Regions from separate parts of the Homo sapiens genome. Here region 2 is linked to region 1. Evidence: fine-mapped expression QTL. A gene starts in region 1. The other region holds a variant in brackets. All regions are shown on one strand. Distances are from middle to middle.

What was found.
Region 2: its variant is fine-mapped to the expression of GTF2I in anterior cingulate cortex (GTEx, PIP 0.98).

Annotation. Positions count from the first base shown.
Region 1 is chr7:74,652,202-74,663,422 of GRCh38, reverse strand. It overlaps GTF2I (general transcription factor IIi), which reads right to left and starts at 5,705. Exons shown (of 35, transcript NM_032999.4): 1 at 5,355-5,705. RefSeq lists enhancers at 1,932-2,211, 1,605-2,247, 3,136-3,275, 3,546-3,775, 5,726-5,775 and 3 more and silencers at 4,546-5,065, 5,136-5,425, 5,446-5,625, 5,996-6,155.
Region 2 is chr7:74,166,268-74,177,488 of GRCh38, reverse strand. It overlaps EIF4H (eukaryotic translation initiation factor 4H), which reads right to left and starts at 3,133. Exons shown (of 7, transcript NM_022170.2): 1 at 3,047-3,133. The coding sequence starts at 3,105. RefSeq lists enhancers at 2,068-2,580, 2,581-3,094, 3,076-3,370 and a silencer at 2,873-3,382. The variant T/C (reference allele first, on the strand shown) is at 5,537.

The sequences.
Region 1 (11,221 bases):
TCCCAGCTACTCGTGAGGCTAAGGCACAAGAATCGCTTGAGCCCGGGAATCGGAGGTTGCAGAGAGCTGAGATGGCACCACTGCACTCCAGCCTGGGCCACAGAGCGAGACTCCATCTCAAAAAAATAAATAAATACTTTCCCTTAGACTGACATAAAAATGATTTGACATCCATCTATTTAAGCCAGTGGTAAAACAATTTCGTGTTAATTATACCACCCCAGTTATGAAGCATATTGCAAAAACTCATGTTTATATAAAACATTCATGTCATCAACAAAGAATGAAACAACAGTAGAAATGAATTAGGTGAAATGCAATGCAAATAGCTGGTAACCAGTAATAACAGAAAAGGTTAAGTGTTTAGTAATTGTTCAGTGTTCAGCTCCTTTAGATGATAACAACCTGTCCACCTATGGGTCATCGAAAATGCCAGAACATAGGACAGTGGCCATGGAAGTTGGGATCCCCTGAGGAGTGTGTACAACTCGCCTAAGGGTGTAGGTGGGGAAAGGAGGGGGGTCATCAACTGTAAACTAAAACCATTCCTCCCACCTATCTGCGGTTATTTTCCCCGGAAAGAAATCCATTATAATTTTAAAAACCTAAAAATCACAGGGCGCCTGTAAGCCCAACACTTTGGGAGGCCTAGGCGGGCAGATCACAAGGTCAGGAGTTGGAGACAAGCCTGGCCAGCATGATGAAACCCCGTGTCTACTAAAAATACAAAAAATTAGCCAGGCGTGGTGGTGCGTGCTTGTAATCCCAGCTACTCAGGAGGCTCAGTCAGGAGAATCACTTCAACCCAGGAGGCAGAGGTAGCAGTGAGCCGAGACCACGCACCTACACTCCCGCCTGGGCGATAGAGCAAGACTGTGTCTCAAAAAAAAAAAAAAAAAAAAAAAAAAAAAGGGTCCAGGTGCAGTGGCTCACGCCTGTAATCCCAGCACTTAAGGAGGCCAAGGCAGGCGGATCACCTGAGGTCAGGAGTTCGAGACCAGCCTGACCAACATGCAGAAACCCCGTCTCTACTAAAAATACAAAGTTAGCCAGGCATGGTGGCGCATGCCTATGATCCCAGCTACTCCGGAGGCTGAGGCAGGAGAATCACTTGACCCTGGGGGGGCGTAAGTTGCAGTGAGCTGATTGTGCCATTGCACTCCAGCCTGGGCGACAGAGTGAAACTCCATCAAAAAAAAAAAAAAAAAAAAAAAAAAAGAAAGAAAAAACCTAAAAATCTTTCTCAGCAAGAATTGCCCCCAACCCCGTCCCGCAAAAAGAACCCCCAAAGCCTACATTTTAATGTCAGTCTCTGTAGTCATATTTGAGTAAGCTGAATCGCTGGAGGGGCATGTGGCAGAGGAGACTCAGCACACAATGCTCCCCAACCCCCCTACCTCCAAGGGCCAAAACTACAAGCTGTGGTCCTATCACTCAAACCTTCTGTGTGGTGGTGTGGCAGACTTTGGGCATCTGAAGAGGATAATGTAACAAATGCCCGTGCTGCGACTAAATTAATAAATAAATCAGAGTGGGAAAAAAGCCAAACTTCCAAAGATTTCCCATTTTATTCCACACTTAAATCCATGGCCCCTTTTTAAACTGGAGACTTATGAAACTTTTAACTTTTCTAATCATGGCTAACAGGAATTCTCAACTCTCAGCCAGTTTTCTGAGCAATCTACCGTCAGTCGTCCGAATTATTTTTCATTCTTTAACATCTATTTTATTTTTATTTTTTTTGAGACACAGTCTCGCTCTGTCGCCCAGGCTGGAGTGCAGTGGTGAGATCTCATCTCACTGCAACCTCCACCTCCTGGGTTCAAGAGATCCCCCTGCCTCAGCCTCCCCAAGTAGCTGAAACTACGTACGCACGCCACCACACCCGGCTAATTTTTGTATTTTTAGTACAGACGGGGTTTCGCCATGTCGGCAGGCTGGTCTCCAACTCCTGACTTCAGGTGTTCCACCTCCCTCGGCCTCCCAAAGTGCTGGGATTACAGGTGTGAGCCACCGCACCCGGCCAAGATCTAATTTTAAAGTAAGAAAAAGCAAATATCTCCAATAAATTTCTCTCCCTTCATTTTGCACCATTGTGAATGGTTCTCAAAGGGCTGTCCGGGAAGCAGCCACCATCAACACCACCTGGGGAGCTAATCGAAATGCAAATTGTGGGGCAACTCCCCAGACCTGCAGAATCAGCCTGGGAGGTAGGGCCCAGCAAGCAGAGTCCGCACATGCCAGCTCTCCCGGGGACGCCCAGGCGCGGTGGTTTCACAACCTCGGCTTAGGGGTTGAGTCACACTGGCCAGGTTCATGTGCTAGGCAAGCAAGAGTACAGAACTCTCCAACTTCTCTAGACTTGTTCCGCTCTATAGAATAGAATTACAGACTTGTCACAAAGATTAAATAAGAAAAATACTGTACATCCAAAGCGCTCAAGAGCCATGGAGGGGGCACGGAAGACACTCAAATGTAAGCAGCATTGCTACCACCGGCAAGGCACGAGGACGATGCCAAACTGGAGGGGGAAGTGGAGGGAGAAAGACATAGGAGGAAAAGGCTTCTTGTCCCTGCCCCTACGAGCTCAACACCCAGTGACTAGGCCAGATGCAGAGGAAAGTAAAAGTGCCCTTAGCCGGGCGTGGTGGAGCGCTCCTGTAATCCCAGCTACTCAGGAGTCTGAAGCAGGAGAATCGCTTGAACCCGGGAGGCGGAGGTTGCAGTGAGCCGAGATCGCGCCACTGCACTCCAGCCTGGGCAACGAGAGCGAAACTCCGCTTCCGAAAAAAAAAAAAAAAGAAAAGAAAAGAAAAAGGAAAAGGAAAAAAAAGAGAGAAAATAAAGGTGCCCTGCGAGGAAGGGCACACAAGTTGATTGGGAGACTAAGAAGGAACAAACTCTGACTATGCAATATAAGAGAAGACCACAGGCCGGGAGCGGTGGCTCACGCCTGTAATCCCAGCACTTTCGGAGACCGAGGCAGGCGGATCACCTGAAGTCAGGAGTTCAAGACCAGCCTGACAAACATGGCGAAACACCGTCTCTATTAAAAATACAAATATTAGCGGGGCTTGGGGGCAGGCGCCTGTAATCCCAGCTACTCGGGGGAGACTGAGGCAGGAAAATCGCTTGAACCCGGGAGGTGGAGGTTGCAGTGAGCGAAGATCGCGCCACTGCACTCCAGCCTGGGGGGATAGAACGAAACCCTCTCAACAACAGCAGCAAAAAAAAAAAAAAAAGAGAAGACCTTAAGGAAGTGGCTGCATATGAGCAAGAAAGATTTCCATAGGCTGAAAAATGTCATTCCAGCCAAAAGACCAAGATCTCAAGGAGGAGGAGAAACGAAAGCCAAGGTAGCAGCCACAGAAAAATCCTGTAGCAGGAAATAAAATCGGTCATCCCACACCACAGGCCTCAGCCTGGGGAGAAGACCCCGCCTCCGCAGGGCACTCTACCTGCACGTTCTCATTTGCAAACTAACTTCCCCTTTTGTTCCCTGAAGGACTGGAGACTTCTCCTCTGCACTGTTGGCTGATCAAGCCATTGTCTGCGGCAAAGTTGAATTTAAAAGAGATGAGGCCCAGCGTGGTGGCTCAAGCCTGTACTCCCACCACTTTGGGAGGCCTAAACGGGAGGATCACCAGAGTCCAGGAGTTCCCGACCAGCCTAGGCAACACAAGAAGACCCCATCTCTAAAAAAAAATTTTAAATTAGCCAGGCGTGACCCAGGGCGGTGGCTCACGCCTGTAATCCCAGCACTTTGGTGGCAGGCCGAGGCGGGCCGATTGCTTTCAGCTTGATTCAAGAGTTGGAGACCAGCCTGGCCAACATGGTGAAACGCCATCTCTACTAAAAATACAAAAATTAGCCGGGCGTGGTGGGCACGCCTGTAATCCCAGCTACTCAGGAGGCTGAGGCAGGAGAACGGCTTGAACCCGGGAGGCAGAGGTTGCAGTGAGCCGAGATCACACCAGTGCACTTCAGCCTGGGCCACAGAGTGAGACTCCATCTCAAAAAAAAAAAAATTAGCAGGGCATGATGGCATGCGCCTGTAGTCCCAGCCACTGAGGAGGCTGAGGCAGGAGGATCGCTGGAGCCCAGGTGTTGGAGGCTGCAATGTGCTATGATTGTGCCACTCTGCGCTTCAGCCAGGGCAACACAGAGAGACCCTGTTTCTAAAAAAAAAAAAGAAAATTAAGCCGAAAGCGATGGCTCACACCTGTAATCCCAGCACTATGGGGGGCCAAGGTGGGAGGATCGCTTGAGCCTAGGAGTTCAAGACCAGCCTGGGCAACAAAGTGAGAACGCATCTCCACAAATAATTTTTTTTAAAAAAAGGAGGTCAGTAGTCAGCAAGAGCTGCGCATCGCCAAGAGTGGACACTACTCCAACAGCACCCCACCTGTGAACATCCCCAGCCGCAAATCAGCGCAAATCCATAACCTAGGGAGGACAAAATTCGCTACACGAAAAAGCAAAAGCTGGATTAAGAAAAAGTGGAGAAGTCGGGGAGCGGGAAGGAGACAGCTTTTTCCATTTCATTTTCCTTCTTCCTCTGCACTCCCGTCGTCTGGGTGCTGGCTGAACCCAGACGGCTTAATTTTCATGGCCTAAAGCTGAAGTTTTCCTTCCGGTCATTGTGTTTATTTCCCCCAAAGAACAGGCCCCGCGGGGCAGGCGCGCCGGGCCGGCCCGGGACAAAGCCCACTGCGGACTCCACCTGGGAGCGGGGCGGGGCGGGGGACAGCGCTCCCGCTCCCCCGCCCGCCGCAGTTACCAGGCAACGCGCGGCCCCGCCCCCGCGCCGGTTGGCCAATCCCGCGCGTCTGCTGCCCCGGCGCAGGAGCCCCAGATACACCAGGCGAGCGCGACCCCACGACGGCTCGGGCCTGGCACCGCGCGCGCCCCCGCACCGCCTAGCCGGCCAATCAGCGCGGCGGGGCATGCGCAGCCCGCAGGGCCGCTCGCTCGCTCGCGCGCGGGATCGCACGCGCGAGGCGCCCCCCCACCGCACGCCGGTCGGCGCGCGCGCCCCTCCCCCACGCGCACTGAGGCGCGCGCGTGCCACTGTCGTCCCCCGCGACCGCGTCCGTGCCGCCCCACCCCCATCGCCTCGTTTCGGCCACTGCCAAGGCCGGCGGGGCTCGAGACCCGGCGAGGCGGTGGGGGTGGGGGTAGGGGGAGGCGGCACGGGCGCCCCCCAAGGCCCCACACCGCGCGCGGCGGGCCGCGGCTCCCAGGCCCCTGTCCCTGCAGGCCCCGGCGGGGCAAAGTCTCTAATAAAGGCCCCCGCTCGCAATGGCCCCCGAGGCGGGGGCGGGGGGCGCGGGGATGAGGCGAGAGGGACTCACCCGAGTGCGGCCGCCTCCAGGCAGCTCCGGGGCCGGGGGTGCCGAGGGGAGGCGAGTGTGGGCCGCGCGCGGGCTGCGGCCGCCGCGGAGCAGCCTCGGCTGAGGGGAGCTGGCGAGCGGACGGGAGGCGAGAGGGGGCGAGGGGCCCGTGCGTGTCGGTCGCGCTCCTGTCACCGCCGCATGGCCGCCCCGCAGGCAGGGCCTCGCTCAGCGCCTTGATCCGATCACTGGGGGACAGAGGCAGAGGCCGGGGTGACCGCGGCAGGCGGGCGGCCGCGGCTGGAGAGCGCGTGCGGGGAAGCGGGGGGGCGACCGGTGGCCCCTTTTCTCTGCTCTCCCAGCTTCTCTCTCACCCTCCTCCTCCTCCTCCTTTTTTTTTTCTTTTTTTTCTTTTTTTTTTTTTTTTTTTTTTTTTTTGTTCCTCGAAGGCGCGTTGCGCCTGCGCATCCGCAGCGCCGCCCAGCGGGAGTTGTAGTTTCGGATGCGTTCCCCGTCAACGCGGCGGCGGCGGTCGTGGACTACAACTCCCAGGAAGCACCGCGCCGGCTAGCCCCGAACCCGAGGACGAGGCAAGCGCGGCGCCCGGCCCTCTCCAGCAAGGGCTGTCAATGGAGGCGAGGGTGGTGGGAGCGAGAACATGGCTGCACCTGGGGCCTGCGCGGCCGCCCGGGTGGGGGAGGGGAGCCGGGGTGCAGAAACGGAAATCTGGACGGGTGGTGGCTCCGGCGTCGTCCCCACCGAGCGCCAGCCGCCGTCCAAGTCCGCCACTTGCTCTTGCACCCCACATTCCTTGCAAATTGCGAGGCAGGGAAGCTGCAAAAGCCGGGGAGCCCCGGGCTGGGCCGTCGCCCTCCTTGCTCTGCAAAAGGGGAGTCCTTCCGCCTTGCACCACCCTCCAGGACACAAAGAACTCCTCTCTAGTGTTTTCCAAGCTGGCCTCCAAAGAGACCGTTGCCCCCAAGTTCGGACAGGCGAGAGGGGAGGAGACCTTGTGTTTTAATTCCTCCCCCAGACCCTCCGCCTCTATCTCTCCCTCAGGATTTGGAAGGAAACTTGCAAGGGAGTGGGAGCAGAAATCCTGACTCGTAGCTCCTGTTTTGTTCTGTCAACCGCGATGCGATTTAACTCAAACTCCTCCCCCTACCACTATTTTTTGCTTCTCAACTTGAATTAGCCGGTGGGTTTTGAAAATGGAGAGACATTACTGTTCACCTAAGTTAAACTCCAAAACTTTACAACCCCGAGGCCGACGATTTTTAGATGTTTATGTAAAGCACGAGATTGAGTGGTTTTTTGATTCCCGCCCGCCCCCCCACCCAGTACCACCCACTGGGGATTCGGGCCACGACGGCCATCCTCCCCCCACCCGCCGCTTCTCGGTAGGTGGCGACCACGACGCTTTTTCCAGCCTCCAAGCCTTTGTCGCTAGCGAGAAAACTTTCCGAGCAGCCAGTCTTTTGATGTGGGTTCCAAAAACCTTTCCTTTCAATCTGGGTTCTCCGATTGGCATTCCCCATCGTCTCTCTTGCACAGACCGCACCCAATAAAGCCTCCTCTAGAATTTTCATGTTGGATTTTTTTTGAAAAATACATGGAGAGCGTAAAGCTCACCGGAGAAGCAATCTGATTACAGAAGCCTGAATTTTTGCGATTTCCCGGACAATGTCTAGGATCCCTTCGGTCCTTGCCTAATAAGATTGTGACTCTCCTTTGTCGATTGTCTCGAAAGTCATTCATTAAGTTTGCACAAGAGCAACTTTCTTTTTGCACTTGTATTTCATTGACATTTAGTAATATTTAATTAAATTCTCTATTCCCAATACCACGTGCCACTGGCATATATTTAGGAACAAATTTAACTCTTGAGAAGCCTATAACTCACTCTAGTAAGAGCAGCCAGCCTACGAGATGCAGATTTCAGCTGCTGTGGACTTCAGTGAGTATCTTTTGTTGAGAGAGTGGTTTCTCCACCTGGAGGGGTCAGGGAAAGGATTTCCTGGGTATAGTGGAGTCGTGGAGTAGAATTTGGGGGGATGTTACAAAGTGAGTTAGCAAGGCAGAAGTTTATTTAGCCAAGATGACTCTTATCATCGTGAAAACGTTTGGAAGGTAGTTCCTTTCTTCTATGAATTTGTTTAGTGGTTCACAGTGGAATTTTTTTTTTGAGACCGAGCCTCGCTCCGTCACCCACGCTGGAGTGCAGTGGCGCGATCTCGGCTCACGGCAACGTCTACCTCCCGGGTTCAAGTGATTCTCCTGCCTCAGCTTCCTGAGTAGCTAGGATTATAGGCGTGCACTACCACGCCCAGCTAATTTTTGTATTTTTAGTAGAGACGGGTTTCTACTAAACATGTTGCCCAGACTGTTCTCGAACTCCTGACCTCAAGTGATCTGCCTTCCTCAGCCTCCCAAAGTGCTGAGATTACAGGCGTGAGCACCGCACCGGGCCCACAGTGGAATTTTGCTGCCTCTTCATAAACAACTCCAACTTCTTTGAGACTGAAGCAATTCCTAAAACGGTTAGGTCAACATGAGCTGGTTTTGAATTACCTCTAGTCAGAAAGCTGTCTCTGTTGAGGCAATGTGTATGCAGACAAAGCGTTTTTCTGAGCATTTTGCCATTAAGGTTTGTAACCCTCAAATTCATGTGTTACAGTCATAAAGATCTTGCGTGTTCTGTCTTCATTAAGGTCTGGCTCACTGCGGCTTGTTGGAACACTTGTCAACCAATTTCTCCTTCATCTTAGTGGCATAGATACTACATTAATTGTGGCCATTGTTATAAATCACTTTGGATACTATCTCTCTGCAAAGCTGGGGTTTTGTTTTACTTTTTTTTTTTCCTGTTTTTGAGACAGGGTCTTACTGTATCACCCAGGCTGCACTGCAGTGGTTCGATCACAGCTCACTGCAGCCTCCAACTCCAGATTCAAGCCATCCTCCCACCTTAGCCTCCCAAATGCCTGGGACAACATGTATGTGCCACCACACCCAGCTAATTTCGTTTTTTGTAGAGACGGGTCTCACTATGTTGCCCAGGCTGGTCTTGACTTCTTGGGCTCAAATAAGCCTCCTGCCGTGGCCTCCAAAGTGCTGCGATTACAGGCATGAGGCACTGCACTGGGCCCAGGTTTTTTTTCAAATGTAGGATCAGATTACTGTTTTGGGGATTGGGCAACAGAAGAAAAATAATAGTTGATTTGTGTCTAAAAATGATGTAGTAGGAAGTCCTCCTTTATTTTATTTATTGATTTTTTTGGGAGGGGACGGGGTCTTACTCCGGTGCCCAGGCTGGAGTGCATGGTGCGATCTTGGCTCACTGCAACCTCCAACTCCTGGGCTCAAGCGATTCTGCTGCCTCAGCCTCCCGAGTAGCTGGGATTACAGGTATGCACCACCATGCCCGGCTAATTTTTGGATTTTTAGTAGAGACAGGGTTTCACCATGTTGGTCTGTCTGGTCTCAAATTCCTGACCTCAAGTGATCTGCCTGCCTCAGCCCCCCAAGGTGCTGAGATTACAGGCGTAAACCACTGCACCCAGCCAGGAAATCCTCCTTTAAAGACTAGAATCGGGCTGGGCACAGTGGCTCATGCCTGTAATCCCAGCACTTTAGAAGGCCGAGGCAGGCAGATCACCTGAGGTTAGGAGTTCGAGACCAGCCTCAGCAACATGGAGAAACCACATCTCTTCTAAAAATATAAAATTAGCCGGGCGTGGTGGCGCATGCCTGTAATCCCAGCTACTCAGGAGGCTGAGGCAGGAGAATCGCTTGAACCTGGGAGGGAAAGGTTGTTGTGAGCCGAGATCATGCCATTGCACTCCAGCATGGACAACAAGAGCGAAACTCCGTCTCAAAAAAAAAAAAAAAAATACTAGAATCACAGGATGCATATACCAAGAGATGCAGACTGGATTGGGGCTTCAGCAAGAGCAGATTTGCGGCTCTCAGCTCATGGTCAGTCAGGACATAAGTACAGAGTCCAACAGCTGGCAGAACCATCCATGTTATTTCAATTATTTCCCCCTCTCTTTTTGTTAATGTTTAGCTTAGTCTTCAGATAAGCGTCCATATGATGTGACTTTTCCATTCTTCTGTTTGGTGGGAAACAAAGCCAGGTCAAATGGGCCTTGGCCAAGCTAGAGATGGATCTGGACCCCACGTGAGCACTTCCACCAACTCAGATGCATCTTCGCTTAGACTCTGGGCTTAGAGCTTCGTTGACTGCTTTGAAATAGCATGTGATTGGCGCGGTGGCTCATGCCTGTAATCCCAGCAGTTTGGGAGGCCGAAGTGGGAGGATCACGAGGTCAGGAGTTTGAGACCAGCCTGGCCAACATGGTGAAACCCCATCGATACTAAAAATACAAAAAAAATTAGCCGAGCATGGTGGCATGTGCCTGTAATCCCAGCTACTCGGGAGGCTGAGGCAGTAGAATCGCTTGAACCGGGGAGGCAGAGGTTGCAGTGAGCTGAGATCGCGCCATTGCACTCCAGTCTGGGCAAAAGAGCGAGACTCCGTCTCAAGATGGTGAAACCTGTCTCTACTAAAAATACAAAAAATTAGCCGGGCGTGGTGGCAGGCGCCTGTAATGCCAGCTACTCGGGAGGCTGAGGCAGAGAACTGCTTGAACCCGGGAGGCGGAGGTTGTAGTGAGCCGATATCGCGCCACTGCACTCCAACCTGGGAGACAGAGCGAGACTCCATCTCAAAACAAAAAAGAAAAGAAAAGAAAAAAGAAATAGCACGTGATCATGGGACCCTGCATAGGAACCCCTGAAAGCCCACGGTGACAGAACGGTGGTTATGCCACTTTGTTGAGATCTCTGTTGTTGGGATCATATGCTCTTTTTAAAGATGTTTTTTTGAATCCAAACTGAATACTCTTTTGGTGACTCTGTTATATCATTTTTTTTTTGGTAGAGATGGAGTCTTGCTATGTTGACCGGGCTGGTTCCAAACTCCTGGCTTCAAGCAATCCTCCTGCCTCAGCCTTCCAAAGTGCTATGATTACAGGCGAGAGCACCTGCACCCACCGTCTCTCATATATTATATTATATTTATTTATTATTATTATTATTATTTTTGATGGAGTCTCACTCTGTCACACAGGTTGGAGTGCAGTGGCACAAGCTCAGCTCACTGCAACCTCCACCTCCCAGGTTCAAGCGATTCTCCTGCCCCAGGCCCTTGAGTAGCCGGGATTATAGGTGCACACCACCACACCCGGCTAATTTTTGGATTTTTAGTAGAGACGAGGTTTCACCATGTTGGTCATGTTGGCCAGGCTGGTCTCAAACTCCTAAGCCCAGGTGATCCTTCCACCTCGGACTCCCAAAGTGCTGCCATTGCACTTTCAGCCACTGCGCCCAGACCAGATTGCCCAAAACCATAATTCTGGTGAAAGTTCAGATACTCTGTTTTTTTGTTTTCTGCTTTTTGTTTTGAGACAAGGTCTCTCACTCCAGTTGCCCAGGCTGGAGTGCAATGGCGCGATCTCGGCTCCTGCAACCTCCGCCTCCCGGGTTCAAGCAATTCTCCTGTCTCAGCCTCCTGAGTAGCTGGGATTACAGGTGCGTGCCACCAGGCCCAGCTAATTTTTGTATTTTTAGTAGAGACAGGGTTTCACTATGTTGGTCAGGCTGGTCTCGAACTCCTGACCTCATGATCCGCCCACCTCGGCCTCCCAAAGTGTTGGGATTACAGGCATGAGCCACCGTGCCCAGCCACTTTTTCTTTTGTTTGTTTTCTTTTAAGACAGAGTTTCACTCTGTATCCCATGCTGGAGAGCAGTGGCGTGATCTCGGCTCACTGCAACCTCCGTCTCCCATGTTCAAGCGATTCTCCTGCCTCAGCCTCCTGAGTA
Region 2 (11,221 bases), 490 kb after region 1:
TCAAAGGGGACAGGGTTTTAGTTTTACAAGCTGTAAGAGTTAAGGAGCTGGATAGTGGTGATGGTTATACATTACGAATACACTCAATATCCCTGAAATGTATACTGAAAAATGGGTAAAGTGGCACATTTTATGTTATGTATATTTTACCACCATAAAAATTTTGGATAAAAATATGCTCAGAAATTTAGACAGACATGCTAAGTTTAAAGATTCAAAGGTTAGAATTCTAAACTCCTAGGCTGGGCGTGGTAGCTCATGCCTGTAATCCCAACACTTTGGGAGGCTGAGGCGGGAGGATCACTTGAGTCCAAGAGTTCAAGACCAGCCTGGGCAACATAGTGAAACCCATCTCTATTTAAAAAAGAATTCTAAACTCCCTAACTGAATCCTGATAAAGAATAAATTTGGAGTTTTGCCAGTTTTTAGATGGCACCATTTCAGCCACCTCAATTCTTGCCACCTCCAATTTCCACCCTAATTCTCAGGATCGGTGGTTTTCCACTAAGCACTCATAGCTTTGTTGCAATTAGAAATATAAAATCAGTATTACTCTGCACTTTACTGCCAATGGTAGATGAGAAACTGGAACCTCAAAAAGATAATTTAGCAAACTGCAAAACAAAGTCCATTCAAGATCTGGTACAATCAACTCTTGATCATTTGGAATTTTGTTTTGATTTGCTTGCTGAACAATGCAGTCCCTGGTTCTCTCCCTGGCTGCTGGGGACATGCCCTTACAGGCTCGGGGGAAAAAAGCAGTGGTTCAATACTGTTTCCTGACAACTGCACTGGTTATTAAACACAACTACGAAATAAACTTAGGAAGATGTATAACTACCAAACTATGTTTTATGATGATAACTGTTCATTTTAGGCCTACCATTTCTTTCACCTGTGACCCAAGTAATTCAGAGGTGAGATGTACGAGCCTGTCTGAGGCATTTTAGACAAGGGAGAAGGTGCCTACACAAGTACCAAACAATGCAGTGTTAAAACTGCTTTCCATAGGTGGCAATCTTCTATGATGCTTAAGCATTGTAAAGCAGTGACATTTGTTCATGTGGACATAATTAAAATAATTGAGGCCGGGCGCGGTGGCTAATGCCTGTAATCCCAGCACTTTGGGAGGCTGAGGCAGGAGAATCGCTTAAACCCGGGAGGTGGAGGTTGCAGTGAGCCGAGATCACACCATTGCACTCCAGCTTGGGCAACAAGAGTGAAACTCCATCTCAAAAAAAAAAAAAAAGAATACACATGTATAAATGAATATGTAAATTCACCAACAAGTTTTTAAAACTACTTCTGAAAGTAGCAATACTTTATGTAGTTTCACATTAATATGAAGCCAAATAGAAAATTCCAAGTAAGTGAGACATAGAAGATGCTTAACAGTAAAGAGACTTTCTATTAGGAAGTTCAAGTGATGCACAGTGCTACCTAGGAAACTCTCCTATCAGTTTTTGGAGTACACCTGGGGCAAATGGCTAATATTTTCATCTGCTGTGGAGATTTGAAATTAATAGCATCTTAATAGAATTTTACTTCTGATTGTTCCTGGCACCCCCAAATGTCAAAATTTGACACCAGAAGAGCTGGCAAATGTGTCTGAAGGAAATTTTTTTAAATCCCCACACTCAGTTTAATAAGGTCACCTTATTGTAGTCCCAATGCAACTAAAACTTAAATTGACCACGCTGTTTAAGAAGAATTTTTCTGGGTACTTCTGTGAACGTTTTTTGGAACTAGGAAAAAAAAAAAAACCCTAGTTATTAAATTTCGAAATGACTTGAGAACAAATTTGATGTTTAGAAACCTAACCCAAAGGCGATAATTTCATGTCATCCAACATTTACTTCTTTTTTTATTAGCAAATAAAATGTTCTTTGGAATGACAATAGCTCCACCTACACCGGCACACTTCCACGTTACAGTATCATGAACATTAGCTACACTCCTGCCCCGAAACAAGCTTTTGTCTGAGCCGTTCCCAAACCAAGGTATTAAAAGTGATCATTCTTTACCAAACAAAGATACTTTTGGACTGCAACCCAGGAGACTGAACACCTCAGTGTGTATTATTGTGGTGTTATCCTGGGAAAGTAATCCTTTCTGCAAGAAAACACAAAGCCCAAGTGTGTCCTTGACAAACAGCAAGATGTTCATAGCCTATATTCTAACGAGGCAACTTGTATTTAAAAAATAAAATAAAAAAAAGTGCAGAGTCCTGGAATTAAACACCATGAGCTCTCTATTCAAAGATGTTTCTTTTAAGCAAAGTGTTTCAATTATACATAGTTGTCTGCATTTGACAACAATCAGGACGACGCTAAATGCGGTTCCTTCTCCAGATCAGAGCGAGAAACCAAGGAGAAATGAAATTGTGCCAAAGAGCACGTAGCACCTGTCAAGGCACTGTGACCCAAGAAAGATTAATACAAAGAAGCTACGATGGATTTATCTCCTTGGTCTCCCCCCGCCCGCAAGGAGTCGTACCATCCCCGGGCCAGAGCCGCCAAATCCCTGCCTCACACGTAAGGGGAAGGGAATCGCCCCTCTTGGCTGCCGACCTTCCCCAGTCGGCCGGCCTCGTGGCGAAGGGGCCAGGGGCCTGCAAGGCGGGCAGGCAACAGAGGGCCGCGAAAGAGGCCGGGACCGGAGCGGGGCAGGCCGTGTGGCCCGTACCCCAGCGCCACAGCTCAGCCCCGCACTGGTCCTACCGTAGGGGGGATGGGGCTGGAAGCGGGCGCTCGTCTCCGGGCATCGGCGCCGCCGCGGCCAAGGCAGGGCAAAAACCAACACGTTGTCGTTGGCGGGAGGCAGTGGAAGGGATCCGCCCCGCAAGCAAGACCCCGGGAGCCCAGCCGCCGCCGCCCCGTCTCCGAGCGCGCCATTTCCAGGCCCCGGCCCTCCAGGCGCCGCTCCTAGGCCTCCGCGGGCCCCCGCCTCCCGCCGCCCCGGCTGAGCGCAGGACGGCCGCCACCCTGACGGCCCCGACTCCGCCGGTCCCGCAGCCCCCGACGGGGCCCGCGCACGCCCGCCTCACCCTCTGCCGCCGCCGAAGCTGCTGTAGGCCCGATCGTCGTAGGTGTCGAAGTCCGCCATTTGCCGTCTCCGCTCCGAGAGGAACCAGGGTGAGCGAGGAAGGACCCCGCAATATAACTCCCCCCGCCCCGCCGCCGGGGCTGTCCGCCGCGCCGCCTGATCGCAAATCCCTTGGACGCAGGCACGCGCACGCGCGCGCGCGCACGCACGCACGGACGCTGGCCGCGCAGCGCCCGGCCCTGGGCCCACCGGCAGCTGCCTGCCCCGTGCGCTCTGCAGCCCACGTGGTGCGGCGGCGTCCCAGCTGGACGCCTGCCCGGCCTACGCGGCCCATTATGTGCTGGCCCTGGGGTGCGCCCGTGGCTGCCTCCTATCCCCGCCGCACCACGCCCGTGCGCGCCGGCCTTTCCGTCCGTCGGCGGGAGGTGACCTGGAGAGCTGGGGGGAACTCCCTCTCCAGTTCGCCTGGGACGCTGCCTTTCGGCCTCCATACATGGCGGGGACCTCGGAGGCCTGTCCCGCTTGGACCCCCAAGTGGTCCCCGGGTGACACCCAAGTAAAGGCCACCTCCTTCTCCAGGCAGGAGCTGGCCACACGATGAGGATGCCCCGGAAGGGGGTGCGAGGCGGTGGGATGCAGACACGAATCCTGCCTTCCAGGGCTTACTCGCTGCCTGGGTATTGGGGGGTTTTGAGAGGAGAGAGTATAGGTGATCGGTGACTTAGCAAGAGAGACTGCACATCTCGGTTTTTTGCAGAAGTCGTTGCCTTGGAAAAAGAATTGGATACTGTTGTGGATTCCATCATCTAGCAATAACAAAACATGGTTATGCAGTGGGAATTAATTACACGGGTAAATTTCCAGGTTTGTGATTGAGATGGTAGTAATTGTGGATGCCACGATGTTGACAAACCTTAATTATCTAAGCACACTTTGAAAGAACCTCATAGAATTTTGTTGTGATGTGTACCTAGGTATCTTCCGCTTAACCATTACTTTTTATTATGTATTTATTGGTTCGTTGTTGAGACAGGGTCTCGCTCTGTCGCCCAGGCTGGACTGCGGTGGAACAGTGGTAGCTCACGGCAGCCTTGACCTCTTGGGCTCATGCCATCCTGCCGCCTTAGCCTCTGGAGTAGCTAGGACTATAGGCGGGCAGTACCTCGCCTAATTTGCATTTTTTTTTTTTTTTTTTTGAGATGGAGAATCAGGTTGGAGTGCAGTGGCGCAATCTCATCTCACTGCAACCTCCACCTCCTCGGTTCAAGCAATTCTCCTGCCTCTGTCTCCCGAGTAACTGGGGTGACAGACGTGCACCACCACACCCAGTTAATTTTTGTATTTTTAGTAGAGACAGCGTTTCACCATGTTGCCCAGGCTGGTCTTGAACTGAGATCCACCCGCCTTGGCCTCCCAAAGTGCTGGGATTACAGGCATGAGCCACCGTGCCTGGCTCTAATTTGCTTTGTAAAACATTTATTTGTAGAGACAGAGTCTCACTATGTTGCCCAGGTTTGTCTCGATCTACTGGCTTTTAAGTAGTCCTCCTGCCTCTGCCTCCTAAAGTGCTGGAATTACAAGCATGAGCCACTGTGCCCTGCCAACTTTTATATTTGAGTATCTTCTCCTTCATAGCAGTGTTAAGATGGACAGAGCATTATCAATTCATGAGTTAATAGTGTTGAACTCACTTATTCATTTTTCTGTGCCTTTTTCTTCCCAAGTAATAAAACACTTTGCTGCCTGATAGACCTAGATTGAACCTAGGCTCAGTTAACGTCTTACTGGCTGAGTGACCTCGAGGACGTTGCTTAACCGCTTTAACATGCCTGTTTTCTCATCTATATAATAATGTCACCTACCTCTTCAGTGTTGTAAAGATTCAAATTAGTAAATATGTAAAATTCCTGGCACACAATATATATTGGGGACCTACCAAGGTGTCTGGCACCATTATGGGTGCTTTACCTGTAGATAATAATTTCCAAACCTGTTTAACAGCTGTGGAACCACCCAGAGAGAAAGAGACTTGCCCAAGGTCACCTAGTTTTGACCTTAGCACATGGCTCAGAAAATAACCAATGGTTTCTTCTCCTTGCGCAGTTTAAACTTGGACCCCTGCTCCATGCTCCTGCCCCCATTACTCTATTACTCTTATTTACTTTCTTTTTTTTTTTGTTTTTGGTAGAGATGGGTCTTGCCATGTTGCCAAGGCGGGTCTTTTTTTTTTTTTTGAGACAGAGTCTGGCTGTGTCACCCAGGCTGGAGTGCAGTGGCGCAATCTCGGCTCACTGCAAGCTCCGCCTCCCAGGTTCATGCCATTCTCCTGCCTCAGCCTCCTGAGTAGCTGGGACTACAGGCGCCCGCCACTACGCCCGACTAATTTTTTGTATTTTTAGTAGAGACGGGGTTTCACCGTGTTAGCCAGGATGGTCTTGATCTAACCTTGTGATCCGCCCGCCTTGGCCTCCCAAAGTGCTGGGATTACAGG[T/C]GTGAGCCACCGTGCCCGGCCCCCCAGGCAGGTCTTGAACTCCTGACTTCAAGTTATTCTCCCTCCTTGGCCTCCCGAAGTAGTGGTATTGCAGGATTACAGGTGGGAACCACGCACCCGGCCACTCCATTACTCATTTTTTTTTTTTTTTTGAGACAGGGTCTCACTCTGTTGCCCAGGCTGGACTGTAGTGGCACGATCTCAGCTCACTGCAGCCTCCGCCTCCAGCATTCAAGCCAGTCTCCTGCCTCAGCCACCTGAGTAAGTGGCATTACAGGTGTGCGCCACCACGCCTGGCTAATTTTTGTATTTTTGGTGGAGATGGGGTTTCCATGTGTTTCCCAGTCTGGTCTTGAACTCCTGGCCTCAGGTGATCCACCCACCTCAGCCTCCCAAAGTGCTGGGATTACAGGCGTGAGCCACCGTGCCTGGCCACTCCATTACTCTTTTTTTACTTTTTTTTTTTTTGAGATGGAGTCTCACTCTGTCACCCAGGCTGGAGTGCAGTGGCACCATCTCGGCCCATTGCAACGTCCGCCTCCCAGATTCAAGCAATGATCCTACCTCAGCCTCCTATGTAGCTGGGACCACAGGCACCGGCCACCATGCACGGCTGATTTTGTATTTTTAGGAGAGATGGGGTTTCACCATGTTGGTCAGGCTGGTCTCGAATTCCCGACCTCAGGTGATCCACCCGCCTTGGCCTCCCAAAGTGCTGGGATGATAGGCCTGAGCCACCACACCCGGCTACTCCATTACTCTTAAAATGCATCAAATTGCATTTGACCAAAGGGAAACATTAAGGGCTGGAGGCAGTGGCTCACGCCTGTAATCCCAGCACTTTGAGAGGCTGAGGTGGGCAGACAAATTAGCCAGGCGTGGTGGCGCATGCCTGTAATCCCAGCTACCTGGGAGGCTGAGGCAGGAGAATCACTTGAACCTGTGAGGTGGAGGTTGCGGTGAGCCAAGATTGCACCATTGCACTCCAGCCTGAGCAACAAGAGCAAAACTCCGTCTCAAAAAAAAAAAAAAAAAAAGGAAACGTTAATATTTATTCCTGAATGGCCTTACATTTTTTTTACTTCCAAAGTGTCCCAGTCCAAAGTCACTTCAGGGTGAGATCTTGAAGGACAGGAGCCATGTTAAGGGGGTTATGTCCCACAGGGCCTTACATGTGGGAGAAGGGGTGCAATTTGTCATTAATAAAGTAAAAAGCGGGGCATGGTGGCTCACACCTGTAATTCCAACATTTTGGGAAGCCGAGGCGGGAGTGTCGCTTGACCCCAGCAAATGGAGACCAGCCGGGGCAACATAGTAAAACCCCAAATCTACAAAAAATAAAAATTAGCCAGGTGTGGTTGCACATGCCTGTGGACCCAGCTACTTGGGAGCCTGAGATGGTAGGATCACTTGAGCCAGGGTGTTGAGGCTGTAGTGAGCCATGATCACACCACTGCACTCCAGCTTGGGCCACAGATTGAGATCCTATCAAAAAACATAATAAATTTTTTTTTTTTTTTTTTTTAAGGGAGGGCTGTGTGTGGTGGCTCATGCCCGTAATCCCAGCACTTTGGGAGGCTGAGGCTGGTGGATCACTTGAGGCCAGGAGTTCAAGACCAGTCTGGGCAACATGGCAAAACCCCATCTCTGGTAAAAATACAAAACTTAGCTGGGCTTGGTGGCGTACAGCTGTAGTCCCAGCTACTCAGAAGGCTGAGGCAGGAGAATCGTTTGATTCCGGGAGACAGAGGTGGCAGTGAGCCGAGGTCACACCACTGCACTCCAGCCTGGGTGACAGAGCAAGAATCCGTCTAAAAAATTAAAAAATAGACTTTCTAGGAAGGCTGGGGCTTTCTCAGCACTGGGACCAACCACAGGTCATCCCCTCCTTCCCGGCTTAATACCCCTTTCTCCCCAGCCAGCAGCTGGGGCCAGTCTTTCGGGCCACACTCCTAGACCCTCCAATCTATAGGGACTTCCCCCTTCTTTTGGTCTCCAGCACATAGCCCACCTCCACCTGGGATGCAGAGGATTGAGGCCAACCCCAGAAAGTTCTGTATACATTGTGACTGCTTCCATGGCAAAGTTAAATGTCAGCCTTTCCTGAGGTTATCCTCATGAACTTTGGTCCTATTAATAATTTGTTCCCTGGCCGGGCACCGTGGCTCACACCTGTAATCCCAGCACTTTGGGAGGCTGATGCAGGCAGATCACATGAGGTCAGGAGTTCAAGACCAGTATGGCCAACATGGTGAAACCTCGTCTCCACTAAAAATACAAAAATTAGCCGGATGTGGTAGCAGGCGCCTGTAATCCCAGCTACTCGGGAGGCTGAGGCAGGAGAATCGCTTGAACCCGGGAGGTGGGGGTTGCAGTGGGCCAAAATCACACCATTGCACTCCAGCCTGGGCAACAGAGCGAGACTCCATCTCAAAAATAAATAAAGAAATAATAATAATTTGTTCCCTAAGCCCTTCCCCAGAGTGGATATTCCAGGCTTCACCAGTTCCCTTGAGCCCTGGGGTGGCTCTCAAAGGCCCAACTCAGATAACACTTTCTCCCAGAGGCCTTTATTGCAGCGGTGAAGCCTGTGGGCTTGCATTTCAAACTGCCTGTCTTCAAATCCCAGCCAAGCCACTTACTGCTACTGTGTGACCTCCAGCAAGGTGCTTAATCCCTCTGTTCTTTGTCTATAAAACAGGAATAATAATAGTAATACCAGTTATCACTATTCATGCTGTTTTAATGTGCTGAAATGATGTTTTATTGGTATAATATGGCTATTATCTAAAAAAATCTGAAATTAGCCTGGCACGGTGGTGGCTCATGCCTGTAATCCTAGCACTTTGGGAGGTGGAGGCGGGCAGATCACAAGGTCAGGAGTTCGAGACCAGCCTGGCCAACATGGTGAAACCTCGTCTCTACTAAAAATACGAAAATTAGCCGGGTGTGGTGACACGTGCCTGTAATCCCAGCTACTTGGGAGGCTGAGGCAAGAGAATCACTTGAACCCAGGAGGCAGAGGTTGAGTGAGCCAAGATCGTGCCACTGCACTCCAGCCTGGGCAACAGAACAAGATTCCATCTCAAAAAAAAAAAAAAAAAAAAAAAATATATATATATATATATATATATATATATATCTATATATCTATATCTGAAATTGGGCATGTTGGCTCACTGCTGTAATCCCAGTGCTTTGGGAGGCCAAGGTGGGAGGATCACTTGAATCCAAGAGTTTGAGACTAGCCTGGGCAACATAGTGAGACCTCATCTCTACAAAAAAAAATTAGCCAGGCGTGATGGCACATACCTGTAGTCCCAGCTACTTGGAGGCTGAGGTGGAAGGATAGCTGGAACTCTGGAGATGGAGGTTGCAGTGAGATGGCGCCACTGCACTCCAGCCTGGGTGACAGAGTGAGACCCTGTCTCAAATAAATAGATAAAAATAAAGAGGTTTATTCTGAGCCAAATATGAGTGACCAAGGCCCATAACACAATCCCAGGAGGTTCTGAGAACATGTACCCAAAGTGAGTTGGTTACAGCTTGATTTTATACATTTTACAGGGACATAAGTTATAGGGAAACATCAATCAATACATGTAATGTATACATTGGTTCTGTCTGGAAAGGTGGGACAACTTGAAGGAAGGTTTTTGGGGGAGGCTTCCAGGTCATACAGGGATTCGGAGATTTTCTATTTTCTTTTTTCTTTTTTGAGACAGGGTCTCACACTGTTGCCCAGGCTGGAGTGCAGTGGTGCGATCTCAGCTCACTGCAACCTCCACCTCCCAGGTTCAAGCAATTCTCCTGCCTCAGCCTCCCGAGTCACTGGGATTACACGTGTCCACCACACCCAGCTAATGTTTTCATTTCGTGGAGGCAGGATCCTGCTATGTTGCCTGGGCTGGTGTCGAACTCCTGGCCTTAAGCAATTCTCCTTCCTCAGCTTTCCAAAGCTCTGGAATTACAGGTATGAGCCACCACACCTGGCCTCATGTGCTTAATTTTTTTAAGATCACCCCTTCTAAAAGAAATACATGTCATTTTTACTTATTCATAATTAATTTAAATTTTTGCTAAATTATTATTATTTTTTTTAAAGAAAGGGTCTTGCTCTGTCACTTAGGCTGAGTGCAGTGGGCGTGATCATGGCTCACTGCAGCCTTGATTTACCAGGCTCAAGCAATCCTCCCACCTCAGCCTCCCAAGTAGCCGGGACCACAAGCACGCAACATGCCAGGCTAATTTTTTGATTTTTCGTAGAGGTGAAGTTTCACTCTGTTGCCTAGGCTGGTCTCAAACTCCTGACCTCAAGTGATCTTCCTGCCTCAGCCTCACAACATGCTGGGATTACAGGCATGAGCCACTGTGCCCAGCCTGTCTATATTTAGAACCATCATGATGAAAATACAGAACAACCCCGCCTGTACTGTAAATACAAAAATTAGCCAGGCGTGGTGGCACACACCTATAGTCCCAGCTTCTCGATAGGCTGAGGTACAAGAATCGCTTGAACCTGGGAGGTGAAGGTTGCAGTGAGCTGGGATTGTGCCATTGCACTCCAGCCTGTGTGATGGAGTGAGACCCTGTCTCAAAAAAAAAAAAAAAAAAAAAGTGCAGAACAAAGACAAAAAGAAAAATGTTTAGAGCTACCAGAGTGAACACAAATGCTGTTTACCTGACTGTAAGACTGACGATGACAGAAGCAGTAACAGAAGACAATAGAATAACATCATACAAATTCCATGGGGAAATAATGCCGAACCACAGACTCTATACCCAGCTTAATCATCCTTCAATAACGAAAATAAATGTATTCATAGAAACCTGAGATTATTTATCTGTCACAAATCCTTTCTAAAAGAATTGTAGGCCAGGCTCAGTGGCTCATGTCTGTAATCCCAGCACTTTGGGAGGCCGAGGTGGAAGGATCACTTGAGGCCAGGAGTTGGAGGCAGCAGTGAGTCCAGTTCTTTCTTTCTCCTGATAGAATCCTATTAGACCTATATCACATTTTTTTTTTTTTTGAGATGGAGTCTCGCCTGTCGCCCAGGCTGGAGTGCAGTGGTGCAATCTCGGCTCACCACAACCTCCGCCCCCCGGGTTCAAGCAATTCTCCTGCCTCAGCCTGCTGAGTAGCTGGGATTAGAGGCACACACCACTACGCCTGGCTAATTTTTGTATTTTTAGTAGAGACGGGGTTTCCCCATGTTGGTCAGGCTGGTCTCGAACTCCTGACCTCAGGTGATCCGCCCGCCTCGGCCTCCCAAAGTGCCGGGATACAGGCTTGAGCTGCCGTGCCCGGCCTATTTTTACTTTTTAAAAATAATTTTGATGTGCTTTGGCTGTGTCCCCACCCAAATCTCAAATCTCATCTTAAATTGTAGCTCCCATAATCCCCACGTGTCATGGGAGGGACCCAACTGAATCATGGAGGCAGGTTTTTCCCATGCCGTTCTCATGACAGTGAATAAGTCTCAATCTGCTGGTTTTATAAAGGGGTGTTCCCCTGCACACACTCTCCTGCCTGCCGCCATGGAAGATGTGCCTTTGCTCCTCCTTCGCCTTCCGCCATGATTGTGAGGCCTTCCCAGCTATGCGGAACCGAGAGTCCCATTAAATGTCTTTTCGTTGATAAATTACCCAGTCTCAGGTATTTCTTCATAGCAGTGTGGAAGTGGA